Linked DNA regions of Homo sapiens. The protein of the gene in region 2 purifies or fractionates together with the protein of the main gene of each other region. This does not show direct contact. Each region holds a gene or a part of one and is shown on either strand. Other genes may lie near its edges.

Evidence for each region.
Region 1: the proteins of ANKRD55 (region 2) and ATAD3A purify together in Homo sapiens (affinity purification with mass spectrometry, with the first as the bait; one large-scale study listed by BioGRID). This does not show direct contact.
Region 3: the proteins of ANKRD55 (region 2) and NOP56 purify together in Homo sapiens (affinity purification with mass spectrometry, with the first as the bait; one large-scale study listed by BioGRID). This does not show direct contact.
Region 4: the proteins of ANKRD55 (region 2) and IFT52 purify together in Homo sapiens (affinity purification with mass spectrometry; 3 studies listed by BioGRID and IntAct, with this or other methods). This does not show direct contact.
Region 5: the proteins of ANKRD55 (region 2) and NUP160 purify together in Homo sapiens (affinity purification with mass spectrometry, with the first as the bait; one large-scale study listed by BioGRID). This does not show direct contact.
Region 6: the proteins of ANKRD55 (region 2) and SRPRB purify together in Homo sapiens (affinity purification with mass spectrometry, with the first as the bait; one large-scale study listed by BioGRID). This does not show direct contact.
Region 7: the proteins of ANKRD55 (region 2) and IFT46 purify together in Homo sapiens (affinity purification with mass spectrometry; 3 studies listed by BioGRID and IntAct, with this or other methods). This does not show direct contact.

Annotation. Positions count from the first base shown.
Region 1 is NC_000001.11:1,514,564-1,518,813, forward strand, and holds part of ATAD3A (ATPase family AAA domain-containing protein 3A), read left to right. Parts: intron 1-1,070; exon of another isoform or gene 1,071-1,252; coding exon of another isoform or gene 1,253-1,295; intron 1,296-1,448; coding exon 1,449-1,525; intron 1,526-2,603; coding exon of another isoform or gene 2,604-2,747; coding exon 2,748-2,849; intron 2,850-3,152; coding exon 3,153-3,212; intron 3,213-4,250. UniProt on the Homo sapiens protein: Essential for mitochondrial network organization, mitochondrial metabolism and cell growth at organism and cellular level. May play an important role in mitochondrial protein synthesis. May also participate in mitochondrial DNA replication.
Region 2 is NC_000005.10:56,110,731-56,114,980, reverse strand, and holds part of ANKRD55 (ankyrin repeat domain-containing protein 55), read left to right. Parts: intron 1-3,198; coding exon 3,199-3,863; intron 3,864-4,250.
Region 3 is NC_000020.11:2,655,632-2,659,643, forward strand, and holds the end of NOP56 (nucleolar protein 56), read left to right. Parts: coding exon 1-115; intron 116-302; coding exon 303-403; exon of another isoform or gene 404-583; intron 584-769; coding exon 770-918; intron 919-992; exon of another isoform or gene 993-1,063; intron 1,064-1,142; coding exon 1,143-1,264; intron 1,265-1,307; exon of another isoform or gene 1,308-1,379; intron 1,380-1,449; coding exon 1,450-1,587; intron 1,588-1,741; exon of another isoform or gene 1,742-1,857; intron 1,858-2,297; coding exon 2,298-2,663; 3' UTR 2,664-2,762; downstream 2,763-4,012. Other genes in the region: IDH3B (isocitrate dehydrogenase [NAD] subunit beta, mitochondrial isoform e precursor), read right to left, coding at 2,878-2,891, 3,128-3,206, 3,894-3,954. UniProt on the Homo sapiens protein: Involved in the early to middle stages of 60S ribosomal subunit biogenesis. Required for the biogenesis of box C/D snoRNAs such U3, U8 and U14 snoRNAs. Part of the small subunit (SSU) processome, first precursor of the small eukaryotic ribosomal subunit.
Region 4 is NC_000020.11:43,597,119-43,601,368, forward strand, and holds part of IFT52 (intraflagellar transport protein 52 homolog), read left to right. Parts: intron 1-4,250. UniProt on the Homo sapiens protein: Involved in ciliogenesis as part of a complex involved in intraflagellar transport (IFT), the bi-directional movement of particles required for the assembly, maintenance and functioning of primary cilia. Required for the anterograde transport of IFT88.
Region 5 is NC_000011.10:47,785,371-47,789,620, reverse strand, and holds part of NUP160 (nuclear pore complex protein Nup160), read left to right. Parts: intron 1-1,009; coding exon 1,010-1,120; intron 1,121-1,315; coding exon 1,316-1,439; intron 1,440-3,066; coding exon 3,067-3,168; intron 3,169-4,250. UniProt on the Homo sapiens protein: Functions as a component of the nuclear pore complex (NPC). Involved in poly(A)+ RNA transport.
Region 6 is NC_000003.12:133,811,565-133,815,814, reverse strand, and holds part of SRPRB (signal recognition particle receptor subunit beta), read right to left. Parts: intron 226-4,250; coding exon 89-225; intron 1-88. UniProt on the Homo sapiens protein: Component of the signal recognition particle (SRP) complex receptor (SR). Ensures, in conjunction with the SRP complex, the correct targeting of the nascent secretory proteins to the endoplasmic reticulum membrane system.
Region 7 is NC_000011.10:118,555,477-118,559,726, reverse strand, and holds part of IFT46 (intraflagellar transport protein 46 homolog), read left to right. Parts: intron 1-1,836; coding exon of another isoform or gene 1,837-1,989; intron 1,990-2,681; coding exon 2,682-2,821; intron 2,822-4,250. UniProt on the Homo sapiens protein: Forms part of a complex involved in intraflagellar transport (IFT), the bi-directional movement of particles required for the assembly, maintenance and functioning of primary cilia. May play a role in chondrocyte maturation and skeletogenesis.

The DNA.
Region 1 (4,250 bases), on a different chromosome or scaffold from region 2:
GTCAGCCCAGTTCGTGCCTAACCACAGGCCCAAGCAGACCCACCCCAACACCAAAGCGTCGCTGCCTCTGTCTAAATGCAACGAGTGCTCCCCACGGCACTTCCCCCTGCGTCAGTCACCTCCAAAAATTACACCTGAGCTGAGAACAGACGCTGGGCTCTAGTTAGTGACGTGTTTGCTGCAGTTGACTCTGAAGGCTTAAAAAAGTGAGACGGGCTGCGGGAGGAAGAGAGACGGGAACAACGCACCAACCCAGGAGCATCGGGGGTCCCTGCCTACTTTACGTGTCTTTCTGTGTTAGCAGATTTATATGTTTATTTATTTATTTGAGATGGAGTTGCCGTCCGTCGCCCAGGCTGGAGTGCAGTGGTGCAACCTCGGTTCATCGCAACATCCACCTCCTGGGTTCAAGCAGTTCTCCAGCCTTGGCCTCCCAAGTAGCTGAGATCACAGGCGTGCACCACTGTGCCCTGCTCTTTTTTTGTCTTTTTAGTGGAGACAGGGTTTCGCCATGTTGGCCCGGATGGAGATTTTTCTTTTTTAAGTCTCTCTCTGTCTAGCTGGAGTGCAGCGGTGCGATCTGGGTTCACTGCAGCCTCTGTCTCCGGGGTTCAAGCCATCCTCCCACCTCAGCCTCAGAGTAGCTGGGATTACAGGCGTCCGCCACTGCGCCCAGCTAATTTTTGTATATTTAGTAGAGATGGGGTTTCACCACATTGGTCAGGCCGGTCTCTAACTCCTGGACTCAAGTGATCCACCCGTCTCAGCCTCTCAAAGTGCTGGGAGTACAGTAGTGAGCCACCGCGCCCAGCCAAAAGATTTTTATGGTAAAGTTTTATGATGGGAAAACTGTCATCCCAGAAAATTTTGAGACCTGATGCTGAGGCCTCAGCAGCTCAGAGAATACGTACTTCTGTCCCACGACACCCAAACATCGACCTGTGTCAGTTCCCCTCTAGGAACAAAACGTAACTGAGGACGTTGTCAGATGCTTGTCCTCGTCACCCTGAGCTTGTTGGCTGGTATCCTATTCTTATTCATTCCCTTTCTTGCCTGCATGTGCTTGATAGCAGATCAATGACAACAGCCATTGGAAGCTTAGGAAAAGCGAATGTAACGTGAAAAAATAGAGGACACTTTAGCCATCGCCTGACTTTCTGTTGAATTGGGAAAGAGCCTCCTCCCGTCCACGTGGGATGGCCTTCCTGATGTGGCTCTCCAAGACCATCCCTGGGGGGATAAAACCTCACAAATGCATCAGGCCGTGTGCTGGGGATGGTGCATCGTCACGCCAGGTCTGACTAGGAAGGAGGATGGGGAGGCAGGGCTGGGGGCTTTGAGGTCGAGGCGTGGCCGTGGATTCCAGAAAGCCCCTTGGCTGGTGTGCGTGCCTGCCCAGCGGCATCCGTGTATCCTAACACCTGCCCTCCGTGTCCTTGCGTCTGCAGGTTATGCCAAGGACGCCCTGAATCTGGCACAGATGCAGGAGCAGACGCTGCAGTTGGAGCAACAGTCCAAGCTCAAAGTGAGTGGGGCCGGTGTGGGTGGGGAGGCCGGGGCGCACATGGGGTTCGGGCATGGAGATTGGTAGGGCTACTGCCGGTGGGTAGGGCCGGGGGTGTGTACATGGGCAGCAGTGGGGCCCAGGGCCAAGCTTGGGCGCCTCATTTCACAGAAGGAAACAAAGGGAGGTGAGAGACGCTGCCGCAGAGCCGCCCGAGAGGGAGGGCTGGTGTTGGTGAGGGCGTCTGGTCGTCCGGAGGGAGGGCCGGTGTTGGTGAGGGCGTCTGGTCGTCCGGATGGCCTGGATCTTCTCATTTCATTACACTCAGCAGGATTTTTTTGTTTTATTTCGTTTTATTTATTTATTTTGAAACGGAGTCTCTGTTTCCCAGGCTGGAGTTCTGTGGTGCCATCTGGGCTCACTGCAACCTCCGCTCCTGGGTTCAAGCAATTCTCCTGCCTCAGCCTCCTGAATAGCTGGGATTACAGGCACCCGCCACCACACCTGGCTAATTTTTATATTTTTAGTAGAGTCGGGGTTTCACCATGTTGGCCAGCCTGGTCTTGAACTCCTGACTTCAAGTGATCCACCTGCCTCGGCCTCCCAAAGTGCTGGGATTACAGGCTTGTGCCACTGTGCCTGCCTTGTTTCATATTATTATTTTTTTATAGACAGAGTCTTAGTCTGTCTTCCAGGCCGGTGTGCAGTGGCGTGATCTCAGCTCACCGCAACCTCTACCTCCCGGGTTCAACCTCTTTCCTCAGCCTCCGAGCAGCTGGGACTACAAGAGCCCGCCACCACATCTGGCTAATTTTTGTATTTTTAGTAGAGATGGGGTTTCACCATGTTGTTCAGGCTGGTCTCGAACTACTAACCTCAGTTGATCCACCCACTTTGGCCTCCCAAAGTGCTGGGATTATAAGCGAGAGCCGTCGCACCCGGTCCACTCAGCAGGATTCCTAAAATAAGCATGAGCTCTGCCCTCAGTGCAGTCCAAAAGGGGGTGTCCGGCCTCCCTCCCGGGGGGCCTTCGCGGGCTTCTGCTGGTGCTTCTGTGCCTGTGGGTCTGGATTCCTCCAGGGCCTGATCCTGGGTGCAGATGCGGCTGGAAGCCCTGAGCCTGCTGCACACACTAGTCTGGGCATGGAGTCTCTGCCGTGCCGGAGCCGTGCAGACACAGGAGCGGCTGTCAGGCAGTGCCAGCCCTGAGCAAGTGCCAGCTGGTGAGTGCTGTGCTCTGCAGGAGTATGAGGCCGCCGTGGAGCAGCTCAAGAGCGAGCAGATCCGGGCGCAGGCTGAGGAGAGGAGGAAGACCCTGAGCGAGGAGACCCGGCAGCACCAGGCCGTAAGAGCGCAAGAGGCCGCGAGGGAGGCCGCCCGGCTGCGGGGAGCGGCCTGGGGCAGGACTGGGAGCTGGGTGTGGTCCCGGGGCACTCTGGAGTCAGCCATTAGAGCTGCCCTCGGAACGGCCTTGCACAAACGCCTAAGACCTGTAAGGTCCCTCACTGCTGAGCCGGACGGGAGGTCCCCGCGCCTCCCCACGTTTGTGTGAGGCTGATGGCGCGTCGGAGTCCCCGGCGCTCCGCCCAGTCGGCCCAGACTGCAGCTCCCGGCTGAGATGTGTCTTTGCCGCCCTCTTCTCCCCCAGAGGGCCCAGTATCAAGACAAGCTGGCCCGGCAGCGCTACGAGGACCAACTGAAGCAGCAGGTGAGCTCAGCCTCCCCTGCGAGGCGCCTGCGTCCCTGAGAACGTAGGTGGCTTTGTGGGACCAGTCAGTGGGTCAGAGGCCACGGGGCAAGAACGCTGGGGTTGCTGACGGTGGGTGCTAGAGCAGGGGAAACTACTCGGACAGACACGCACCAGCACACGTGTACAGGCACACATGCAGACGTGTGCACACATGTACATGGAGACACAGGCACCTACCCACACGGACACACACTCCTCGCACACACACTCCCAGCACACACAGACAGGTGCACCCACTTCTGCACACACGGGCACACACACACCCCTGCACACACGGGCCCACACACAGACACCCCCACACAGAGGCCTGCACTCACACACCCGCAAACATACCCCCACACAACACGGGCAGGCACACACCCACATGGACACTCACACCTGTAAACACACCCCCATACAGACAGGTACGCACATACACCCCGCACACACACACACAGATACGCACACACACACCACACACAGGTACGTACCCCCCCACACACACACAGGCGCACACATACCCCCCACAGGCTCACTGGCACCCGCGCACTCGGGCACACACACAGCCCCACACACACAGGCGCACACCCACACACACATGGGCATGCCCCCCCATAGACGGACACACACACACCCACACACATGGGCGCGCGTACACCCCCCTATACACATGGGCACAGCCCCCCCGCACACATGGGCACGCACACAACCCCCCCACATGGGCGCACAGACCCCACACACACATACGGGCACACACGCCTTCCCGTCACAGGGACACACACACACACCCGCACATGGGCACACACCCACACACGGGCGTACACACCCCCCCCCACAGGCACGCACAACCCCCCCACCCCCCGCACGGGTACACACACACACACACACACACACCCAAACGGGTGCACAACCCACCCACACATGGGCACAATCACCCCCACACACATGGGCACAGTCACCCGCCTGCACATTCGGGCACCGTCACCCCCCGCAAACGGGCACCGTCACACCCCGCAA
Region 2 (4,250 bases):
ACTCCTGGCCTCAAGCAGTCCTCCCACCTTAGCCTCCTGAAGTGCTGGGATTAGAAGTGTGAGCCATCATACCCAGCCACAGTATCATGTTTTGATTGATGTATATAAAAACGATCCAGCCTTATATAAATACGTAGTTGGAAAAGGCAGGTGTATCTCAATAGGCTTTTCAGATAATTGTGTGTATTTTTCTTTGATACGATACCAAAACTTAACAAGCAGCAGTTTCTTAAAGGTTAATTGCAATGTGGATTCTCACCATATCAATGAATTTTTTGTACTCTGTCACATTAGAATACATTACTATACCTTATACTTTAAATGGGTCTTATACACATGCGTGATTTTATTAACACCTTGCATTGGTCATTTGGAAAATATTGGTTCACTTAATTATAAAGATCTTCCAGATGACACATTTCATTATACAATATCAAAAAGTCACATTTGTTAACATCACCACCAATCTATTGGACAAGCTTTATATACTGAGATGGTGTCAAGCTTACAATGTGAATATAAGTTTTCCAAAATTCTAGTTTTTGCTTGAAAGCTAGACTTTTGTCATTGGCTACAATAACTGTCAGTTATTTATCTTGAAATGAAATATTCACTGTATTCGTTTTATTTTATTTATTTGTTTATTTATTTTGAGATGGAGTTTCGCTCTTGTTGCCCAGGCTGGAGTACAATGGCACGATCTCGGCTCACCGAAACCTCTGCCTCCCAGGTTCAAGTGATTCTCCTGTCTCGGCCTCCAGAGTGGCTGGGATTACAGGCATGTGCTACTACCCCTGGCTAATTTTGTATTTTTAGTAGAGACAGGTTTTCTCCATGTTGGTCAGGCTAGTCTCTAATTCCCAACCTCAGGTAATCCACCCGCCTCGGCCTCCCAAAGTGCTGGGATTACAGGCGTGAGCCACCACGCCTGGCCCACTTTATTCATTTTAATATATTTTTATTGTATATATATATATATATATATATATATATAGTATACATATTTTGATATAAATATACCTAGTCAGATGGGTCGAGCGCAGTGACTCACGCCTGTAACCTCCACACTTTGGGAAGCCAAGGTGGGTGGATCACTTGAGCCCAGGAGTTCAAGACTAGCCTAGCCAAGATGGCAAAACCCCATCTCTACTGAAAATACCAAAATTAGCTGGGCGTGGTGGCATGCACCTGTAATCCCAGACACTTGGGAGGCTGAAGCACGAGAAATACTTGAACTCAACTGCAACTTTGTACCCTTCGACCTACACCTCCCATTCCCCCACCTCACCCTCACTTCTGGTAATCACTGTTTTACTCTCTGTTTCTGTGTATTTCACTTTATTTATTTTGCAGAAATTTCTGCAAATACTTAGCTCTACATAACCACAGTTTGTCTGCAAGGCATAAAAATGGTGTTCCGTGAAAAAAGTGTCCGGTTCAGCCCGCGACTCAAACAATTGCACAGCTGCTTTACCCCAAGACAATCATCACACCTCCGTATATAGTAGAATTGCTTACGAGTGCTTCTTATTTTGTCAAACAAGTGTACTCAAGTTAATATTTAATCAAATTAATAACTTGTACTCCCTAAACAAGGACATTATTAAGTTAAAGGACTTTTTTTTTCTGCAAGTACATTGATGCCACTATTGTCCTGATTTGTACTGAGGCAGCCACCATTTTACCCACCACCTCTATTGCACCATCGATGCAAGGCAGCACAGTGAAAAAGACAAATAACGTTGTGATGTTATTATGAATAGAGTTTAATGCCATAAACCCCTTAAAAAGTCGGGGATCCCTCTCCAAGGGTTCAGTGGACCCCATTTTGAGACCCAGAGGCCTAAAGCACAAGCTGTAACAGGAGGAGGAGATGGCTTACACAAGATGCTGCAATAGCATCAATTCACACAGACATATTCTTTATAGGGAAACTTGAGCGTCGGAAGTGCCCTGGGGCTCTCTCTCTGGTGGTATTAGGAGTCTAGAATTCAGTATTTCAAAAAGCCCATTGGAAGGTGAAAGAATAAAGATAAGACTACATCATGGAATAAAAATTCAAAGGATGCACTGTGTGACCTGTAGAGAAAACATTCATTATATGCATCCAAAATAAGTGGTGATGTTTTTCAAATTGCAGATTGCGATATCTCACTCCAGAAAGTAGTGTTGCAATCTGACTCAGGGGCACACACACGGGTCAGGTTTCATCGTTAATTCATACCGCAGAAAGCATTAAGTCAATTGGAGCCTCAAAAGAGAATCACACAGAATTTTCTAAGGAACACAAACAGAATCTTGCCTCAGGGAACCTCTCGACAACTGCTGGCCTTTTTCCTTTATAATTTGCCTGCGCATTGGGCATTGCTCACTTTCTTCTGCAGCCACGCCCGACCTTGGTCATGCACTCCTCCTCTTCCCTCGCTGGAGCCCAGACTAAAGCTTCTTTCCTTGGTTGTTTTTTTTTTTTTTTTTTGCTAGAGATGAGATCCTGCCATGTTGCCCAGGCTGGTCTCAAACTCTTGACATCAAGTGATCCTCCTGCCTCAGCCTCCCAAAGTTCTGGAATTATAGGCATTAGCCACCGTACCTGTTCTTCAGCATACTTTTTTTAAAAGTACTTTTCGATAGGAAAGTTTTAGTTTAAAATGGGGAGGGGTCTCTGAGGGGGATAATGTCAGTCGGTCAGCACTCGGTCCAGGTTTTCTAGGATCTCTGTCAGAGAAAGCCTAAAACCACATTCCCCCCACCTCAGCAACCTCCTCCATCCTTCTGCTCATTGAAGCCTGAACTCAAACCCTTAGGCTTCATCTCTGACTTCAACTTGCGTGCCTACTGACTGTCCTTGAGATGTGAGAACAACACTTTCAGCTAATTTTCAGTTTAGTTAACCTCTTGTTGAAAACAGATGATCTAGGTGTAAATTTTGAAAGGATATCCCCTGAAGGAGCAAGAAAAATCTAAGAAACGTCCTCCTTGGGCAAAGACTGCCCATGGTAAAGAGCCTCTTCTGGGCGGGATTGCCAGGGGTACTGTGAGTTCTTCACACTGCCTTTAACTTGAGAAGGCTTTGGAGGTATCTAGGAAGGATCTCAGAAAACCTGATGAAGCATGTGGAATAGGGGGTCGGTATTTCGGTGAGTGATGTCTCTACTTCCCATACTCACATATCATCCCTGCTCTTTTATATTCGCATAGAACAGAGCCTACTCGACCCCCTCCCTCCCAGAGCAGTCGGCCCCAGAAGAAGGAGAGACGGTTCAACGTGCTCAACCAAATATTCTGCAAAAACAAGAAAGAAGAGCAGAGAGCCCATCAGAAGGATCCCAGCAGGGACCGATACAGAGAGGAGGACACCTCAGAAGTCAATGACATCATCACCACCTTTGATAGCATCGTGGGTACCAACTGCCAAGAACAGCCTGGTGATCAGGTGGCTATGGTTGAATTTAAGAAGAAAACCTCAGACAATTCAAAATATCTCTTACCAGAAAAGAAACCGCTGGCCCGTAAGGGGCTTCCACCAATCAGAACGCAGAGTCTCCCACCCATCACCCTGGGCAATAACTTCCTAACAGCCTCCCATAGGGCCACTTCCCATGCAGGCCTGAGCTCTGCTCCTCATCATATGGCCCAGCGATCTCAGAAAAGTCGAAGTGAGCAGGATTTATTAAATAACAGAACTGGCTGCCAGATGTTACTAGATAACCCCTGGAAGAGTGATTCTAATCAGGTATTTTCCTACAAAGTTTGGACTGTGTCTTCTTCTGATAAGCTGCTGGACAGATTGCTCAGTGTCCGGCCTGGTCACCAAGAGGTCTCCGTGCCACCACACCTTCGCCATCTACATAATCCATCATCAGGTAATGTCCTTGATTTCATGTTCATTCTCAGCAGGCTCTATACTGGAAATGTCCCGTACAGTTTTAAGCTAGGAACTGGAGTGACAATAGCCTAGAAGGCAGGGTGAGAATAAAATGAGTGATTAGAGCCACCTTTTCTCCCAAAGTGCACTGGATTTGAGATTTCTGAGCTGTGAAAACATTCTGCTTCTCCCCTCTTCAAGTAATCATCAAGTACAAATATGTGCCTTCTCATCTCCCCAGCAAATATGTGTGGTATGTACCAGATTGGAGCAAGAATATTACTATTTCCACTAGCAAGGATTCTTAACTAGTGTGTGGCAAATACCTGTGAGGAGTTTGTTTGTGTGATTGTTTTTAAATCAGGCATTCAATCTCCACCCCAGA
Region 3 (4,012 bases), on a different chromosome or scaffold from region 2:
GAGCTTCTCCAGTCGTGTGGTGTCTTTATCTGAATACCGCCAGAGCCTACACACTTACCTGCGCTCCAAGATGAGCCAAGTAGCCCCCAGCCTGTCAGCCCTAATTGGGGAAGCGGTGCGTCACAGGGGACTCAAAAATGGGAGAATAAGGACTGTTGCCATGTGCACCTGCACTGCTGTATTTCGTGACCCACCATGTCTTCCCTAGTTGTGCTTGATGGGGAGGTGGGGAGCAGGGCTGTCGTGCAACTGGGCAGGTCAGCAGTTCATTTCTCTGACTGCTTCCTTGACTCTCTCTCCAGGTAGGTGCACGTCTCATCGCACATGCTGGCAGCCTCACCAACCTGGCCAAGTATCCAGCATCCACAGTGCAGATCCTTGGGGCTGAAAAGGCCCTGTTCAGGTACCAGTGAGGGCACCTGCCCACAATCAGGTGCCACTTCTGGTGCCCACTGCTTGTTGGGGGATCACGGTGATGGCTGACCAGGGCTCCCTGACCTATACAGGCCTCTGCTATGGGGGTGATGGCCAGTCCTGGTGTCTGAGTGATTCCCAGGGCCCAGCAAAGGGACCAAGTTTCCAGGTCAGCGACATTGGATGCCTTCCCTCTGCCTCTGGGAGCTATGGGTTGGCATGCATTGGGGTAGAGATCCAATCTGGCCTGAGGCTCACTCAGGACTTCGGGGTGAGAGGAGGGGAGGAGCTGAGCTGCCTTGGCTAATGGGGTTGAAATTTCTGATCTTAAACTCTCCACTGAATATTCTCTCAGAGCCCTGAAGACAAGGGGTAACACTCCAAAATATGGACTCATTTTCCACTCCACCTTCATTGGCCGAGCAGCTGCCAAGAACAAAGGCCGCATCTCCCGATACCTGGCAAACAAATGCAGTATTGCCTCACGAATCGATTGCTTCTCTGGTATGGGTGGGGGGGCGTTGGCAGGTGTGAGAAGGGGCTGGGTGGCTGGGTGGGGAGGCTTGCAACCATAGCTTCCACAATGATGGCAATATTTTTCGTCAACAGCAGTTCACCTAGTGAGTGTTGAGACTCTGGGTCTGAGTGAAGCTGAGGGTAGAGGGAACACAGGGTTGGGGTAGTTTCTCTCTTTGGGCTGACAGGCTTTGTCACCCACACACATCCAGAGGTGCCCACGAGTGTATTCGGGGAGAAGCTTCGAGAACAAGTTGAAGAGCGACTGTCCTTCTATGAGACTGGAGAGATACCACGAAAGAATCTGGATGTCATGAAGGAAGCAATGGTTCAGGTCAGTTGGGCTTTGCTGGGTGTGGAGTGGCATAGCTAGCTGTTGGAGGTGATGAACTGTCTGAGCCTGACCTTGTAGAATGGAGGCAAAAAAACTGATTTAATGAGCCTGATCCAATAAAGCCAGAAAGGAGTCCTCAGAGCACCAGAAGTCTTCAGGCCCTTTTAGCACTTTTCTTTGACCAGGCAGAGGAAGCGGCTGCTGAGATTACTAGGAAGCTGGAGAAACAGGAGAAGAAACGCTTAAAGAAGGAAAAGAAACGGCTGGCTGCACTTGCCCTCGCGTCTTCAGAAAACAGCAGTAGTACTCCAGAGGAGTGTGAGGTCAGTAGGCAGCACGGCCCTGGCAGAGATCCTAGGTTGTAGGATTTTCAACAGCAGAACAAAGGATATGCTGCATCAAGCTGTGGTCTTGAGTCCAGGCTTTTGGACTGAAACAAGGACCTGAAACATCTAAAACTACCTCTTGATTCTATAGGAAGGAGATAGGTGCTGAACTTGCTCAAGAGCCCAGAGAGCTGGTTGTAGCTCACACCCGTTCCCTGGGCATGTGTGTTCTGTCCTCGGCTGCCTCCCAGGAGTCCTCAACCTGGGGTAGTGTAAATTCCTGCTCTGCTTATTATCAGACGTGTGTCCGGAGGTGGTCGTGTTTCACAGTGGGGATGGGGGCAGGGAGGTCCCCAATGTGCTAAGCTACAATCATTCTCCCTGAGATTTTCATTTAGCACCCAGTTTCTTAAACAGTGTTTCAGGGCCCTGTCTGGAACTTGGCATGATGGTTCTGTTGCGACCAGCATGGTGGGTGTTTTTTAGGTTTTTTTTTTTAATGGGCTGAGGTAATTTCTCATGACATGTTTTCCTTCTAATTTGGGACAGCCTTTGGGGTGGATTTCTAAAGTTATACCCACACAATTAAACTATCCCAGAAACACTGGGCAATGTTAACGACACGCGTTCCCCTGCCTTGGCTACTTAATTGCTGAAGATGTAATGAGCACTGTTCTCACAGCCTGTTCCCCTGTCCTTCCCTTTAGGAGATGAGTGAAAAACCCAAAAAGAAGAAAAAGCAAAAGCCCCAGGAGGTTCCTCAGGAGAATGGAATGGAAGACCCATCTATCTCTTTCTCCAAACCCAAGAAAAAGAAATCTTTTTCCAAGGAGGAGTTGATGAGTAGCGATCTTGAAGAGACCGCTGGCAGCACCAGTATTCCCAAGAGGAAGAAGTCTACACCCAAGGAGGAAACAGTTAATGACCCTGAGGAGGCAGGCCACAGAAGTGGCTCCAAGAAAAAGAGGAAATTCTCCAAAGAGGAGCCGGTCAGCAGTGGGCCTGAAGAGGCGGTTGGCAAGAGCAGCTCCAAGAAGAAGAAAAAGTTCCATAAAGCATCCCAGGAAGATTAGAATGCAAATGGACATTCTCTGGGAGGTGGGGCATACCATAGCCCAAGGTGACATTTCCCACCCTGTGCCGTGTTCCCCAATAAAAACAAATTCACAAGAGTTGGTTCATGTTCTTTATTGAACACCTTACATGGGTATGGACAGGGCCTATGGGTGGGGCAAGGCAGCAATGACAGCCTCAGTGAAGTCATGGCAAGTAGCATAGCCACCCATGTCAGAGGTTCGAACCTGTGGGGGAGAATCATCATCATCCATGTGGCCTGGGCTCCATCCTAACAATCCCCATCACCACCCAACAGTCTGTCCCCTAAGGAAGCCGGCCCAAGGACAACCTAGGCTCTACCCAGCAAGGTGACCATGGTCCACTGCTTAGAGGCACAAGGTCTCTTCCCTGGTACACTGCACTGAAGGGTATGGGGAGTGTGGTCCTTGCAAGGTTGGAAGAAATAAAGGGCTCTAGCTCCCTTTAGTCTGCAGGTGACCGATGACAGACTTGATGAAGTCGGTTGTGGTGCTGTAGCCGCCCATGTCTCGAGTCCGCACCTACAGCCACCACCGGCAACAGCCGTGGGGAGGGAGAAAAGAGAGCCCATGAAGGGAGGTAGGGCAATGTGATTGAGGAAATGGAAGCCAAGAATGCGTGACAGCCAGAAAAAAGGCAATGCACAGGAATGGAAGGAGGAGCCAGGATGGGAAGCACATGGACCTGCCACTCCTCTTAAGCCACTATTAGCTGTGCTGCAGCCAGGGCAGGACAGGAGGCTGAGCAGGCAAAGATGATGGGAAACGCAGATCAGAGGCAGGATGTGGCTACCTTCCTTGGAAGAAATAGAGACAAGACCAGGTGGAAGGAAAGAATCACAGCGAAAAGGAGATGGGGCGTGAAGGTGAAGCTGATGCTTCAGCCTGCCTGTATCCCTTGCTGTTCCACCCCCAAGGAGAGCTGCAAGTTCTGCATTCAGATGGCCCATGAAAAGGGCAGTGGATGGAGCAGGAAAGAGGGAACAGCAGATGGGATCTAAGAGGCAAAAGAGATCAAGAGGATGAAACAGCCAAGAGAAGGGAGATGAAGAACAGCCCTGAGAGGGATGCAGGGATGTCAGGGAGCAGATGTTCTGGGGACCTGGGGGGAAAGGAGACCCCCATTCAGGTTCCCCAGAGGGTAGTGCCGAGGTGCTGACACCAGAACTACTCTAAATCCTGAAGCCAGCACTACTCTTCTCAACTCACCTTGCCAACTTTGATCACCTTCTTCACCGCATCTGCGATCATGCTGGAGTGATACTCAAGACTGTGGATATGGACAGGAAGAAACTGTGACTCCCCCAAGACACCTCCCGCTAATTTCC
Region 4 (4,250 bases), on a different chromosome or scaffold from region 2:
CCCAACACTTTGGGAGGCCGAGGCAGGCAGATCACCTGAGGTCGGGAGTTCAAGACCACCCTGACCAACATGGAGAAACCCCGTCTCTACTAAAAATACAAAATTAGCCAGGCGTGGTGGCGCATTCCTGTAATCCCAGCTACATGAGAGGCTGAGGCAGGAGAATCGCTTGAACCTGGGAGGCGGAGCTTGCTGTGTGCCAAGATCGCGCCATCTCACTCCAGCCTGGGCAACAAGAGCAAAACTCCATCTCAAAAAAAAAAAAAGAAAGAAAATAGGAATTCATTTAAAATAAAAGTGTTTATTATTCTAGTTCATGGAATGGATAAAGAATGATAAATGTAAGGCCCAGAATACAAATGACAAGTATTGGTGAGAATGGGAAGTTATTGGAACCCTTCCACACTGATGGTGGGAATGTAAAATGATGCAGTCACCATGAAAAACAGTATGGTAGTTCCTCAAAAATTTAAGCATAAAATTGCCATATGATGGCTGTGTGTGGTGGCCCACGCCTGTAATCCCAGCACTTTGGGAGGCTGAGAAGGGTGGATCACTTGAGGTCAGGAGTTCGAGACTAGCCTGGCCAACATGGTGAAACCTCATCTCTACTAAAAATACAAAAATTAGCCGGGCGTGATGGTGTGCGCCTGTAATCCCAACTACTTGGGAGGCTGAGGCAGGAGAATCACTTGAACCTGGGAGGCGGAGTTGCAGCGAGCAGAGATCGGGCCACTGCACTCCAGCGTTGGCAACAGAGTGAGACTCTTTCAAAAAAAAAAAAAAAAAAAAACTGCCATATGATCTAGCAATTCCACTTCTGGGTATATGCCCAAAAGAATGGAAAACCAGATCTCAGAGATAGTTGCACACCTATCTTCCTAGCAGCGCTATTCACAATAGCCAAAAGGTGGAAATAGCCCAAGTATCCATCGGCAGATGAGTAGATAAGATATGGTATATACATACAATGGAATATTATTCAATCTTAAATAGGAAGGTAATTCTGATACATGCTACACATGGATGAATCTTGAGGACATTATGCCAAACGAAAATAAGGCAGACACAAAAAGACAAATACTGTATGATTTCACTTATGCAAGCATGAGGTACGTAGAGTAGTCGAATTCGTAGAGACAGAAAATAGAAGGGTGGTGGTTGCCAGGGCCTGGGGGAGGTGGGGAATGGAGCGTTGCTGCTTAATAGGTATAGAGTTTCAGTTTTGCAAGATGAAAACAGTTCTGCAGATTGATTGCCTAACAGTGTGAGTATATTTAATACTGCTGAACTAGGCCAGGTGCGGTGGCTAACACCTGTAATCCCAGCACTTTGGGAGGCTGAGGTGGGTGGATCACTTGAGGCTAGGAGTTTGAGACCAGCTTGGCCAACATGGTGAAACCTCATCTCTACTAAAAATACAAAAATTAGCCGGGCTTGGTGGCACATGCTTGTACTCCCAGCTACTTGGGAAGTGGAGGTGGGAGAATCGCTTGAACCTGGGAGGCGGAGGTTGCAGTGAGCCGAGATTGCGCCACCGCACTCCAGCCTGGCGACAGAGACCCTGTCTGAAAAGAAAAAACAAACAAACAAAAAACTGCTGAACTATATACTTCAGAATGGTTAAGATGGTAAATTTAGGAAAGATTAGGTGTGTTTTTTCACAGTCAATAAAACAAAAAACCCAGAACATAGAAAGAGCCATTTTACAGAGAATGGGAAGTACCTTTGTGCTGAGAGAGAATATGGGGAATAGAGAGGTTGAGGCAGGGCAAGGCCAATGTGGTCCTTAGATTGAGGCAGGCCAAGGTCTCCTGCTGTTACTCTGGGTGGTGCCATGGGGAAGAGGTCCACTGGGGAGCATTTCTAGTGCACTTTGTTTCTCAATTTGATTGCAAAGTGACCTTCCCCCGCTGGGAATGGCATGGAGAGGGACATGATTGTTTGATCAGGTTAATTGACAGAAGGAGTAGAAATTACCATTGGGAATGTGGAGGTAACCAGCAACTCCTACCCACTGAGACCCTGAGGGATATGTACACACAGAGGGCAGTGGCCTGCAGAGCAACACTCTATTGCTTGTTGGGCTTCGGCTCCATCTCCCCATCCACCTAGCGAAGCCAATGAGAGAGTTGGCCTGATGTTTGCCAGGGACCAACCAGCCTCAGGAACACAGGGGCATCCAAAGAGAGGGTCAGAACCTGGTGCCTGGGCCTTTTCCCAAGTGGAGATGGGTGCCAGGCCAAGCCTTAGTTTGGGCTTCCAGGCATGGTAGGCTGATGCATCCAAGAGACACAAGTCCTTCGAGAGGCAAATTTGATGTAACTTTAGCCTAATAAAACGTCCTCTCCCAGACCAGTCCCTGACACCATACCTTCTCTTTAGAGTTGGAGTGAGGTGGGAAGAAAAGGGAAAAAAGCTGTTAGCTTTTTTTCTAGGAATCAGCATTCCTTTGTGTTACAGTTCTTCCAATGGGCTCATGCTTGTGAGATCACTGCTTTCCTTGTCATTGCTGCTGGCCTCCTAGACTGTTACCCCTGGAGAGCTGTGTGATGCCTTTTTCATGTTGACTTCCAGAAACTTCTGTGACAGGACAGACATCATATGTCTGATATTAGATGCTAGTATCATGCTAGAAACTAGGCTGAACAGTCTTTCCTTATTTCCACCTCAACTACATTGACGCATTACACTAGCTTTGTGGTGGTATTCAGTTACGACCAGGTAACCACGTGGCTGAGACGAGTATTTTCCAACCCTAACAGACCAGCATCCACCTATATTACAGATGCCAACTTTGTTACCCTGAATTGAAATGCAAAGATAATCTAACCCACCACCATTAAAAAAGTAAAGCAATATAACTTCCTAACTTTAATGTACAGAAATTAAAGGATGATTTATAAAAGAATATGTGTATTTCAAATTGTAAATGTTTATGCATATATATACTAGAAGAATATACATATTTCAGTTTGTTAATGCTTGGTCATACATGCATTAGAACACTTCTTTATGTTTGACATTTTGAAATAAATGTTTAATAAGTATGTAGAACTCCGATGAATGGGATAGGTACATATGCAGACTGGTGGAAGTGATGTATTGGCAATTCAAATCATGAGCCGTGTTGCTGTCGGTGATGTGATTTTTCCAAAATACTGACTAACTCTTGGTAAAGTTCTATTTTTTTTTTTTTTTCCTGAGACGGAGTCTTGCTCTGTCACCCAGGCTGGAGTGCAGTGGAGTGATCTCAGCTCACTGCAAGCTCCGCCTCCCGGGTTCACGCCATTCTCCTGCCTCAGCCTTCCGAGTAGGTGGTACTACAGGTGCCCACCACCACGCCCGGCTAATTTTTTGTATTTTTAGTAGAGATGGGGTTTCACCGTGTTAGCCAGGGTGATCTCGATCTCCTGGCCTTGTGATCCGCCCGCCTTGGCCTCTGGTAAAGTTCTGTTAATAAAAAGAGTATAATTCTTCTCTCAGTTTACATGGTAGTTGGGTACCTCCGAATTCAGTATATGTTAAATCGTGCAAAAAATACTTTGTACAGTATTTACATAGAATTTGAGCTGGGCGCAGTAGCTTACTCCTGTAATCCCAGGAGTTTGGGAGGCCGAGGCGGGTGGAACACCAGACGTCAGGAGTTTGAGACTAGCCTGGCCAACATGGTGAAACCTTGTCTCTACTGAAAATACAAAAATTAGCCAGGTGTGGTGGCAGGCTCCTGTAGTCACAACTACTCAGGAGGCTGAGGCAGGAGAATCACTTGAACCCAGGAGGCGAAGTTTGCAGTGAGCCGAGATCGAGCCACTGCAGCATGGGTGACAGAGCAAGACTTCATCTCAAAAAAAATAAAGAAATTGGAGTTAGATTTTAGGCTGAGCTTCTTTTGTTTGTTTGCTTTTTCTTTTTTAAACCTCCGTGACTATCTGAGAAGATATTCAAATGCTGTGGAATAGTTCTTTACTGTGTGGGACTGGTCTGAATATTGCAGGACCTTAACTTCCCTGCCCTTCACCCGCTAAAATGTCCTTAAACATTAATATTATGGCATTAATATTTTGCCATATTAATATTAATATTATGGTGATCCAGAATACATGCTAGATGGTTTAAATGCCTCCACTGAGAGCCACTGGCCTGGATCATCCAGTCTCGATTACAGGAAATACCTCACATTTGCTGCCACACTAACAGTGTGAATGCATTCTAAGCCAATTTCTAAAATTCAAGTCTGCAAAATTAAT
Region 5 (4,250 bases), on a different chromosome or scaffold from region 2:
TTCAGCATTCTAATCTGCTAAAGGTTGTCTGGTAGCACTTCGAAAATGTTGTACAACAGTAAGAGAAATGAAAATGCTTAAATAAGAATGTGGTTTTTTTCTTGAATGTTGTATTTAAATCAGCTTAGTTCCAAGCTTTTTTTTTATCAAGTTCTTTTGCTATTTCCACAGAGGCATGATATCCTTCCATAAAGAGCCGAGGCTCTAGATTTGGACACACCTGGTTTTATTTCTGCCTCTCACAGTTTGGTCATATTTCTTTCTTATTGATAGAGATGACAGACAGTATTTCACAATTATAATAGTTAAATGAGGCCAGGTGCAGTGGCTCATGCCTTGTAATCCCAGCATTTTGGGAGGCCAAGGCAGGAGGGTCATTTGAGCTCAGGAGTTCAAGACCAGCCTGGGCAACATAGCAAGACCCTGTAGAAAAAAAATTTTTTAGGCTGGGCACAGTGGCTGATGCCTGTAATCCCAGCACGTTGGGAGGCTGAGGTGGCTGGATCACCTGAGGTCAGGAGTTTAAGAACAGCCTGGCCAACATGGTAAAACCCCGTGTCTACTAAAAATACAAAAATTAGCTGGGCATGGTGGTGCACGCCTGTAATCCCAGCTACTCGGAAGGCTGAGGCAGGAGAATCACATGAACCCAAGAGGCGGAGGTTGCAGTGAGCCGAGATCATGCCACTGCACTCCAGCCTGGGTGACAGATTGAGATTTGTTTCCTTAAAAAAAAAAAAAAAAGTTTAAAGAGTTAAATGAAATTACATGTAGTACCTTGTAAGCACCTCCTCAACTGCAGTCGGTTAAAATACTTTGATTTGACATGGGATATTGCATAATTTGTTTAAGTTAGCATTTATTTAGTGCCCTATTTTCTCCTTCCTTCATGCATTTGGAAATTAGATTGAATGTTACTTAATGTTCAGTGGAAATTGACAGGTTGCGTTAATCTGATGGATACTTCTTTGTATTTTGGGAGTTCAAAATATTTTTCTTTGATGTATAGCAAATCGACAAATTGAAATCCTGGAACTGGAAGATCTGGAGAAAGAGTGTTCCTTGGCTCGCATCCGCCTCACTTTGGCTCAGCATGATCCATCAGCGGTTGCAGTTGCTGGTAGGAATTCAAGAGTTTAAAGCCTCTGACTTGTCAGCACCACGAGCACATTTTAGGTCCAGGCAGTGTATGTAGCATGGTAGATGGGTATAAAGCCTGGGTTATTACTCAGAGATACTCATCAACAAAACAAAATCTTTGGTTTCATTTGTGTATACCTTGGCTACACGAAATAATCTTTTTCCATTTTCACAGGAAGTTCATCAGCAGAGGAAATGGTCACTCTCTTGGTTCAGGCGGGCCTCTTTGACACTGCCATATCACTCTGTCAGACTTTTAAGCTTCCCTTAACGCCAGTCTTTGAAGGGCTTGCCTTCAAGTATGTATAAAATTATTTTTTTATAGTCTTTTCTAATGCAAATATATTATCCTCTTGCTCAGTGTGAAACAGTCGTCATAAGCCAAGTAGCCCATATATCATTTATGATTTGAAGAAGTGTTTTGTTTAATCCATCCAAGCATTCTTAAAAAGAATTTCAGGCTGAGCGCAGTGGCTCACGCCTGTAATCCCAGCACTTTGGGAGGCCGAGGCGGGCGGATCACGAGGCCAGGAGATCAAGACCATCCTGGCTAACAAGGTGAAACCCCGTCTCTACTAAAAATAATACAAAAAAAATTAGTCGGGCGTGGTGGCGGGCGCCTGTAGTCCCAGCTACTCGGGAGGCTGAGGCAGGAGAATGGCGTGAACCTGGGAGGCAGAGCTTGCAATGAGCCGAGATCGCGCCACTGCACTCCAGCCTGGGCGACAGAGCGAGACTCTGTCTCAAAAAAAAGAAGAAGAATTTCTTGGCCAGGCACAGTGGCTCACATCTGTAATCCTACTAATACTTTGGGAGGCTGTGGCGGGTGGATCGCTTGGGACCAGCCTGGCCAACATGGTGAAACCCTGTCTCTACTAAAAATACAAAAATGAGGGTGTGGCACACAACAGTAATTTCAGCCTCTCAGGAGGCTTAGGCACAAGAATCTCTTGAACTTGGGAGGCAGAGGTTGCAGTGAGCTGAGATCGCGCCTCTGCACTCGAGCCTGGGCAACAAAGCAAGACTCTGTTTCAAAAAAAAAAAAAAAAAAAGTTTGTGAATTAGAAATAATTTTGAACTTTCAGAATTTTTCAGCCAGGTGCAGTGGCTTACGCCTGTAATGCCATCACGTTGGGAGGCCAAGGTGGGCAGATCACTTGAGGTCAGGAGTTCAAGACCTGCCCGGCCAACATGACGAAACCCCATCTCTACTAAAAATACAAAAGTTAGCCAGGAGAGGTGGCGTGTGCCTGTAATCCCAGCTACTTGGGTGGCTAAGGCAGGAGAATCGCTTGAGCCTGGGAGACGGAGGTTACAATGAGTTGAGATTGCGCCACTGCACTCCAGCCTGGGCAACAGAGCGAGACTCCATCTTAATTTAAAAAAAAAAAGAGGCCAGGTGCGGTGGCTCATACCTGTTATCCCAGGACTTTGGGAGACCTAGGCGGGCGGATCATGAGGTCAGGAGATCAAGACCATCCTGGCTAACACAGTGAAACCCCGTCTCTACTAAATATACAAAAAATTAGCCAGGCATGGTGGCATGGGCCTGTAGTCCCAGCTACTCAGGAGGCTGAGACAGGAGAATCACTTGAACCTGGGAGGCAGAGGTTGCAGTGAGCTGAGATTGCACCACTGCACTGCAGCCTGGGTGACAGAGCAAGACTCCATCTCAAAAAAAAAGAAAAGAAAAAAGAATTTTTCATCATTAATTTTATCTTGGAAGTAAATTGTCTCTTAATGCTTACTCATGTTCTTGTAGGTATCCAGTTGTGTAACTTGAGGAAGAGATGAGCCAATATTCCAGTAGTGAATTCAGCAAAAGACTAGAGATGAAGTTGTCATCTATCTCTCTAGTTTTAGTATCAAATTAAAGTGGTACGTTTCAGCGTTCAGTTTTCAAGTGTGGAACCATTTTCATTCCAGATGCATCAAATTGCAATTTGGAGGAGAGGCAGCACAAGCAGAAGCCTGGGCCTGGCTAGCAGCCAATCAGCTCTCATCTGTCATCACTACTAAGGAGTCTAGGTACAACCCTGGTGTTCAACCCTGGGTAGTTTTGCCTTTCTAAAAGCTGTAACTGTCTTTCTCTGACTAAATTGTCCTACATAGATCATTTCACTTTTTTCTTTCTTTTTGGCTAAGTTTTTATAGGGGCTGGAAAGTTTATAATTAAGGTGACATCATGTCATTTATTGTCCAAACTAGGATGTCTTTGCCTATGAAATGTCTCCTTCTCCATATCCCCCTCCTCAAAGACTTACTGTTTCATATCAGGAAAGGGTACTCTTACAGGCAAAAATCTGTATTTACTTGTTTCGGAGTGTTATCCTCCTTTTTTCCCCCATTTCTTCCACTGAGCAGTCACTGCATGGTTTCATCACAGTGTCCTCTTATATCTTGTCTCCAGCTGCTGTTCAGCAGTCTGTCACCCATCAGCCCCCATCATCCACTATACCTTCTTCAGATCTCCTCTGGTTCGTATACTTCCCCAGTGCACCCACTTTGTGTCCACGTAAATATACTTCAGCTTCTTCAGAAACCTTCTCTAACATTCCTAACCCTCAGTAAACTTCCCTTTCTGAACTGCATTTGCACTTGGTATTATACAGCTTAGCACTTTAGAGTGATAGCACTTTAGAATTTGGAAGTTCTCTGACATTAGTTTTCAACCCCTAAATTAGCACATCAGAATAACTTATTAAAATACAGATTATGAGAAATCACCCTAGTCTTCTAAGTTAGAACTTCTGCATGATTCTAATGCTTGATCAGGTTTGAGAACCAGTGTTCTGAACCAGTTTCTTGTTTTAGAAATGCAGAAACAAAGGAGTTAAATGAATTATGCATTAATAGCCAAACAAATAACGTTCATTTACTAAATATGTTTGTTTACTAAATACTAAATACGTTAGTGGGAGAGGAATATACGAACCCAAGACATCTAGTTTCTAGTGCTATCCCCATAAGTCACATTAGCCCAAATAATATTTGTTCCCATTTAGCTATATTATTGATTCAGTTGTTAATTTCTAAAGTTTTCCTTGTAAGGCTGGGCATGGTGACTCCTGCCTGTAATCCCAACACTTAGGGAGGACAAGGTCAGAGGA
Region 6 (4,250 bases), on a different chromosome or scaffold from region 2:
TAATAACAACTGTAAATAATGGAAATAATTCTTAGTAGCAGCAATCCCCAAAAAACTCAATTATTATTGCAAGAAAACATGATGGCACCTTGCTTATTGCAGGCTATTAAGAATGATGGTGTATTCTTCAGACCCATACTGTCAATGAGGACTTGATACAGAAACTCAGCCACATCTTTCACCTCTCGCTGGAATGCTGCACTATCCACAACAAACACAATAGCCCTGGAGGGAGAAAACAAGAAAAACTGGCATGTGAACGTGTAACAGGACATCATTATCTTGAAAAACTATCCTGAACTTCTTCAAAGTCAATCTTGGTGATTAACACTCAGCAGACACACATGCAGGTCTGTGCATATGTTATCATATAACATAAATCCTCATTTAACAAGGAACTATTGAGTGCTACTGTGTATCAATGACTGAAGCTGAAAAAAGACAGTAAGAAATGATGCCTGTCCTCCAAGACAAATCATCATATAGAGAACCATATGATAAATGCCAAGACAAAACTATGCACATGTGTAACAGGAATAAAGAGAAAGATCATTTAAATGAGACCAGGTCAAAGGCAACTTTAAGGAGAATGTAACAGTTGAGTTGAATCTTAGCTAGACCAAAAATTGGGGCACAGGCTGTCTGGAAAGTACAGGTTGAGTATCCCCAATCCAAAAATCCAAAGTCTAAAATCCAAAACACTTCTGGTTCCAAGCATTTTGGATAAGGGATACTCAGCCTACAGTATGTTCAAGCCACAAATACGTGAAACACATTCCCTGGGGAAGTCAAGGTAAGCTGGTACACAGGGAGATGGGGAAATGAAGGAGAACCAAGTCAGACAGTGAGGCGTGACACAATGACCTGTGGAGTTCATGCTTTTCTGTCTTATGAAGAATATTGGTGCCTAAATGGAAGACAAAGCAATCTTAGAGGGCGCTTGAACTAGAAGCACAGTGACCAGGTAGGGCCTGAACTAAGGCAGCCATAGTGGGACTCCTCATGTGACAGAAACAAAGAGATATCAAAGCTAAAGTGCAGCAGCCCAGGGAAACTGCAGACAACAGGTCTTAGGGGGCCGGGTGCGGTGGCTCACGCCTGTAATCCCAGCACTTTGGGGGGCCGAGACAGGCAGATCACTTGAGGTCAGGAGTTCGAGACAAGTCTGGGCAACATGATGAAACCCAATCTCTACTAAAAATATAACAATTAGCCAGATATGGTGGCGGGAGCCTGTAATCCCAGCTACTTGAGAGTCTGAGGCAGAAGAGTTACTTGAACCCAGAAGGCGAAGGTTGCAGTGAACTGAGATCATGCCACTGCACTCCAGCCTGGGTGACAAAGCGAAACTCCATCTCAAAGAAAACAAAAAAACAAAAAAACCGGCCAGGCGCGGTGGCTCACGCCTGTAATCCCAGCACTTTGGGAAGCCGAGGCGGGCGGATCACGAGGTCAGGAGATCGAGACCATCCTGGCTAACACGGCGAAACCCTGTCTCTCCTAAAAATACAAAAAATTAGCTTGGTGTGATGGCGGGTGCCTGTTGTCCCAGCTACTCAGGGGACTGAGGCAGGAGAATGGCGTAAACCTGGGAGGCAGAGCTTGCAGCGAGCCAAGATCGCGCCACTGCACTCCAGCCTGGGCAACAGAGCGAGACTCCGTCTCAAAAAAAAAAAAAAAAATACAAGCCTTATGGACAAGGGTTTGAATGCCCAGGTGGAGATAAGAGACATGCAATGGCCAACATGCAGCTGGGGAGCTAGAACTGAATGCCCTGCACAAAGCCTACAACTTAAAATAGTCTCAGGGAGGTCGGGGCTTGCAAAAAAAGTTCCCTTAGAAACAGCGGGCCTCCACTGCCTCACACAGATATAGGGTATGAATTTATACTCTCTCCAGGTGTAAGACCCCCAAGGGGAAAGGCTTACATAAAAATTGGGCCAGACTTATTGAAGCCCTATGGCCCCAACAGAAGGAACTATGAACCGCTTATGGAGCAAGGCTTTCATATCCTACGGGATTAAAGAACCACCACAATATCAATGATGTGTCACTCTTGAAGAAAGGTTCTGGAGCAAAAATTACAAGGCACAGAATAAAATAATTATGAGGGAGAATAACTGGTACCCCAAAGAGAATAATCAGCACCCCAAAACTAAGATAATAAAGCTATCTATAAAGTAAATGTTTAAAATTATTTAAGAAAATACTACAAACTACAATAAAAAATAGAATAGTATAAAAAGAAACAGGCTGGTTTGAAAAGGTAAGTATTTTAGACAAATATAGTAAATGATATTAATAAATCAATGGAAAAGTTAAGCAGAGATCATGCTCAGCTGAAAATAATGTAATAAACTAGAAAACAAATCTGAGGGAATCTTACAATATGCGAAGTAGAAAGATCTGGAAGATACGATAGAGAGGAAACAAGAAAGGCAAAAATAATAAGGTTCAATAACATTCATAAGAATTCCAGAGTGTGAGAAATGATCATGGGGAAACAGCACTACCTGGAGAAACGATGGTGAGAATTTTCCAAAACTGAGGAGAATCTTTGGTTTGGAATAGCACAACTGAATTCCAAGAATGATAAAGCTAAATCCATCCTTGAACAGAAGAAAATCTATCCCTGGATAGAAGGTCAAATCAGGCAGACTTACTACAGTGAAATGACAATTAGACTGACTGGCAAAAACATTCTCATCTGCAACAGATGGATGAGGTCAGGAGTGATGCGGCTGCCACCCAGGACTCTGCACTCAGCTAAAAGAGACATTCCAAAATGCTGGCCAAATAGAGTTACAAATGAACAAAGACTGAAAACATTTGACTACTCATCACCCTCTCTGGAAACACTTCTAAAAGATATACTCAGTGAGGGAAAACTGAATCTAAAGGGAAGAAGTAAAATTCAAGAAGCAATGGGGAGCAAAAGACCATAAGCATCCTGGTAATTCTCATCACTGAATGTAAGAGGAAAAAAAAGTATGGATGGGGGTTAAAAAGGAGCATAAATAAAAGGAAGATGTGAGGAAGATGAAAGTTAAAGTGTTTAAGGTTCAGGAAAAGGAAACTGATATTATTGGATTCAGACAATCAAATAGGCAATGTTTAAAAGATGGGGGAGGGGAACCATGATAAGAACAGCAACAGCATATGTTCAAATCAGGAGAGGGAAAATAGCCACTAGGGAAACTTGGCGAAGCCAGAAAGTAGGATTAAAAAAAAGTCACATACCAATATAGTAAATGTCTTTTCAACTTGCATGTTATCATGATTATAATTTATTTGAACTAAGTTTTATCTTCATATTTTGCATGTTTTATTTACCCAAAATACATGAATCACAGAGTAGTTATACTGCAAATCATAAAATATTTAGAACTGGCAATAGAAAAAGAAAAAACATTTAATTGGAAATAAAAACCCAATTATGGCAAAATTTACCAGCTCTAGATTTGTCTCAATTGTCCAAGGAATTTTCTTATCTGTGACAAATTGTTCATCACCACCATCTTGTGGGCAAAGATGCAATAATGAAATTTCAGTCTAGACATCTTCAATAAAAGGCAAAGAATCTACTACTTCATTCCATCAAAACTAAAATGCTGCCAATTAAAGACATTATTTTAGGGACCGCTAAGAGAAAATACTGCCAATTAAACTATGACACCATCAACTATAAGATATATTCTAAATTCAGAGATATTAAAATGTGTCTTCAAATCAGTGAAATGTGGCATACTGATTTTCCTCTTCAGTTCTTATTAATGTTAGAGACCAAAAAAGAAGCATCTGAAACTGCAGCATAAGACTTTTTAGGGAAGAACTTAAGAGTCAGTAACACCAGAGCACACACTAAAAGAAATATGGAAATATTGTTCTGTACTTCTTGAAACATCAATTTTACGTAATTTGAGAATATATATGGGCCAGGTGCAGTGGCTCACGCCTGTAATTCCAGCACTTTGGGAGGCTGAGGCCAGCGGATCATGAGGTCAGGAGTTCGAGACAAGCCTGGCCAACATGGTGAAACCCCATCTCTACTAAAATTATGAAAAATTAGCAGGGTGTGGTGGTGCGTGCCTGTAATCCCAGCTACTCAGGAGGCTGAGGCAGGAGAATCACTTGAACCCAGGAGGTGGAGGTTGCAGTGAGCCGAGATCACACCACTGCACTCCAGCCAGGACAACAGAGTGAGACTCCATCTCAAAAAAAAAAAACAAAAAAACACTATATATATAAAT
Region 7 (4,250 bases), on a different chromosome or scaffold from region 2:
GATGACACCAGTTCAACGGTAAACATTTCTTGAACACTCACCTCCAGGGGTTAGGGACCTTTGAGCTCATGGAGGAAAATCAGTTACAAAGAGCCTTGAGATTTTGACCCTTCTTCAGGAATAAAGCCTACTACTACAATTGACTTTGGTGAGGAATTTCACATAATGTAGGCCAGTGTTTCACAAACTTTCCTGATCATAATACTCAACTGAGGTACTTATTTTTAAATATACGGATTCCCAGTCCCAGCCCAGAATCTCAAAAGTAAAAGCCTGGGAATTTATATTTTTTAGGAAGCAGTCCAGGTAATTTTATGCTAAAGCGAGTTTGAAATTATCAGTCTAGGCATTTTTTCATTGTCAATACTTGTGATACTGCCAGTATTTTGTGAAGGAGATTTTAATTTTGAGGTCTTAAGACCCAGATGTTGGCTGCTGTTATTCTGTGTACCTAGAGAATCACCCTGCTTCTGAAAGAAACATGGCAAGAGGCCCACCTCTCTAGAAACATATAGGACCTTAGAGTTGCACATATGATTTCTTAAAAACCGTTTATGTTGGCCGGGTGTGGTGGCGCACTCCTGTAATCCCAGCACTTTGGGAGGCCGAGGCGGGCGGATCACCTGAGGTCAGGAGTTTGAGACCAGACTGTCCAACATGGCGAAACCCCATCTCTAATAAAAATACAAAAAATTAGCTGGGCGTGGTGGCGGGTGCCTGTAATCCCAGCTACTTGGGAGGCCTCCCAAGGTGCTGGGATTACAGGCACAAGCCACTGTGCCCAGCCTGTTTTTTTTGTTTGTTTTTTTTTTTTGAGACAGAGTCTTGCTCTTTCACCCAGGCTGGAGTGCAGTGATCTTGACTCACTGCAACCTCTGCCTCTTGGGTTCAAGCAATTCTCATGCCTCAGCCTCCCGAGTAGCTGGGGGATCACAGGCCTGCACCAACTCGCCTGGCTAATTTTTGTATTTTTAGTAGAGATGGGGTTTTGCCATGTTGGCCACACTGGTCTTGAACTCCTGACCTCAGGTGATCCTCCTGCCTTGGCCTTCCAAAGTGCTGGGATTACAGGTGTGAGCCACTGTACCCAGCCTGATGGCTGCATTTTAATGGTTTTTGTTTTTGTTTTGAGACAGAGTCATCTCGCTCTGTTGCCTAAGCTGGAGTGTAGTGGCATGACCTCAGCTCGCTGCAACCTCCGCCTCCAGGGTTCAAGCAATTCTCCTGCCTCAGCCTCCTGAGTAGCTGGGATTACAGGCGTGCGCCACCACGCCTGGCTAATTTTTGTATTTTTGGTAGAGATGGGGTTTCACCATGTTGGTCAGGCTGGTCTCGAACTCCTGACCACATGATCCGCCTGCTTCGGTCTCCCAAAGTGCTGGGATTACAGGCATGAGCCACCACCCCGGGCTGACAATATTCTTAAAAGTTCCCTCTGCCAAAACTGCTTCCTATGTGACTAAGGATAATTTTGGCAAATCTTGAATTGAGAAAGAATGCTCTAGAAAGTTCTTATCAGTCATATACTAATAAGGCATAGTCACTGAATAAATTCTGCAACTGTGTTTCATTATCTGCCATGCATATTACAGCTTAGTTAGAATATACTTTATGTATAATAAATTTGTTATTCTTAGAGCAAAATGTGACTAAAAGCAGTTTTTGGTGTCCTGTAACGTGTCACAATTTTGTGTGCCAATAGCTGCTTTACCATAAAAACAAATTAATTTTAAACAACTGGAATCAAACGTGTTAACCTCAGTATAAGCCATACGGTATATAGAAACCAAGTTTTGAAAACCTACTTTTAAAGGGGGCCAATTGGTCATCCTTCAGGTCCTAAGGGAGGGCATGCCACAGGCTCCAGGCCACAGAGGCAAAGACATGGACCCTGTTCCACCTGCCCCTGCAAGTCTCAAGTGCCACCAGACCCCTTCTCATGTACTTGAGAGGGTGGGATGGTACAGAGAGAGCCAGAAGCACAGAAAGGTAGGTTATAATGTCAAGAACAAAAGAGCTGTTTATCTTGAGAGAGAATGTGTAGTCATTTTATGTAATTTATGGGGTAAGGGAAGGGAAATACAGATAGGTCAGATACTCCATGAAGAGAAATATCACTGAACAAAAATGGAAAGTCCATAGTCCCTGGGACTGCTGGTTTGATGGGCACAAGGTTGATTTTGAACTTTCTTCTTTTGATAGTTTCAAGCAGCTTATGCTGGGCAGTCTTGCAAATTAAGTATTAGATTTCCTCTCTATGGTCTTTGTGAGTATTAAGACCCCTAAAATTTCTATTCCCACTTCATATTCCCTGATTTTCTTCCAAAATAACTAGAGTTGCCATCCTCTTCTTTGAAAGTCCATAGCTTTTCGGGCCGAAGCTGTCTAAAGTGTACACAGGGCCCTGAAGATCTAAGTAATATGTACAATAGATAAAATTAGAATTTATACCCCAGCCTCAAGTAGAGAAATGGAATAGGGTTCTAGAAAGTGGAGTCCCCATTTGTAGCTGAGCAGGGGCAGAAGAAGGCTCTCAAGCCCCTTCTGGGAAGTGCCCCCTTCTCTTTCTGGTGACGAGGTGCCAGGTGGTTGGTGTATTGGTTAGAGCAATAGAGAACTGGGCATAGGTACATTTGATTTTTTTACTTGAAGCTTTCTATGCCTGCCCTGCCCTATCACAGGAGAAGAAGAAGACCTCACAGTTGACACCTCAACGGGGCTTTAGTGAAAATGAGGATGACGATGATGATGATGATGATTCATCTGAAACTGATTCTGATTCTGATGATGATGATGAAGAGCATGGAGCCCCTCTGGAAGGGTGAGGAAAGAACACCCAAGCCAAGGGTGCTCTTCAGAATACCTCCTTCAAAACACTGGAGTGGGAGGACGTCAGTTAGAAGTGAAATTCCAGCATCTCTTTTGATCTCCTGTATTTAGGATTTTCAGATGTCTCAGAAACCCAACATAATAATGAGTTTTCCTCCCTTTCTGACTCCACTACCTTATCCAGTCCTATAGTATCACTTTACTATCTGAAACGTTTGTGGGCTTGGGGGTTACATGAGATTTTGCTGAGTAAATCAAAAAGGTGGTGGCCAGGCATGGTGGCTCAAGCCTGTAATCCTAGCATTTTGGGAGGCTGAGGTAGGAGGATTGCTTAAGGCTGGGCGTTCAAGACCAACCTGGGCAACATAGCAAGACCTCGTCTCTACAAAATTTTATTTTTTTTTTGAGACAGAGTCTTGCTCTATCGCCCAGGCTGGAGTGCAGTGGCGTGATCTCGGCTCACTGCAAGCTCCGCCTCCTGGGTTCACGCCATTCTCCTGCCTCAGCCTCCTGAGTAGCTGGGACTACAGGTGCCCGCCACCACGCCCAGCTAATTTTTTTTGTATTTTTAATAGAGACGAGGTTTCACCGTGTTAGCCAGGATGGTCTCGATCTCCTGACCTCGTGATCCGCTCGCCTCGGCCTCCCAAAGTGCTGGGATTACAGGCGTGAGCCACTGCACCCGGCCGCCCAAAAATTTTTTAAAAATTAGCTGAGCATGCTGGTGTGTGCCCATAGTCCCGGCTGCTCGGGAGGCTGAGGCAGGAGAATCACTTGAGCTCAGGAGTTTGAGACTGCAATGAGCTATGATCGGGTCACTGCACTCCAACCTGGTCAACAGAGTGAGACCCTGTCTCAAAAATAAATTAATTAAATTTAAAAAATAATAATAACACTGCTAAAAACACTTCTATAATTTTTTTTTTCTGGTGCAAACTATTTTCATGTCAGATATTTAAATCTCTTTTTTTTTTTGAGACAGAGTCTTGCTTTGTCACCCAGGCTGGAGTGCAGTGGTGCGATCTTGGCTCACTGCAACCTCTGCCTTCCAGGTTCAAGTGATTCTTCTGCCTCAGCCTCCTGAGTAGCTGCGACTACAGGTGTGCACCACCACACCTGGCTAATTTTTGTATTTTCAGTAGAGATAGGGTTTCAACCATGTTGGCCAGGCTGGTCTTGAACTCCTGACCTCAGGTGATCCGCCTGCCTCGGCCTCCAAAAGTGCTGGGATTACAGGTGTGAGCCACCACGCCCAGCCCTAAAATCTCTTGTTCTACCTTTTCTTGTCATCCTTTCATTAAAAAAAAGGAAAACCATTTATGCTACATTTTAACATCAAAAAAATATTATGTTTTGGATTTTCTGCACCTCTGTCCTTCAGAGTCAGAGATAATTGAGAGTTAAGTACAATCAACCTTAAA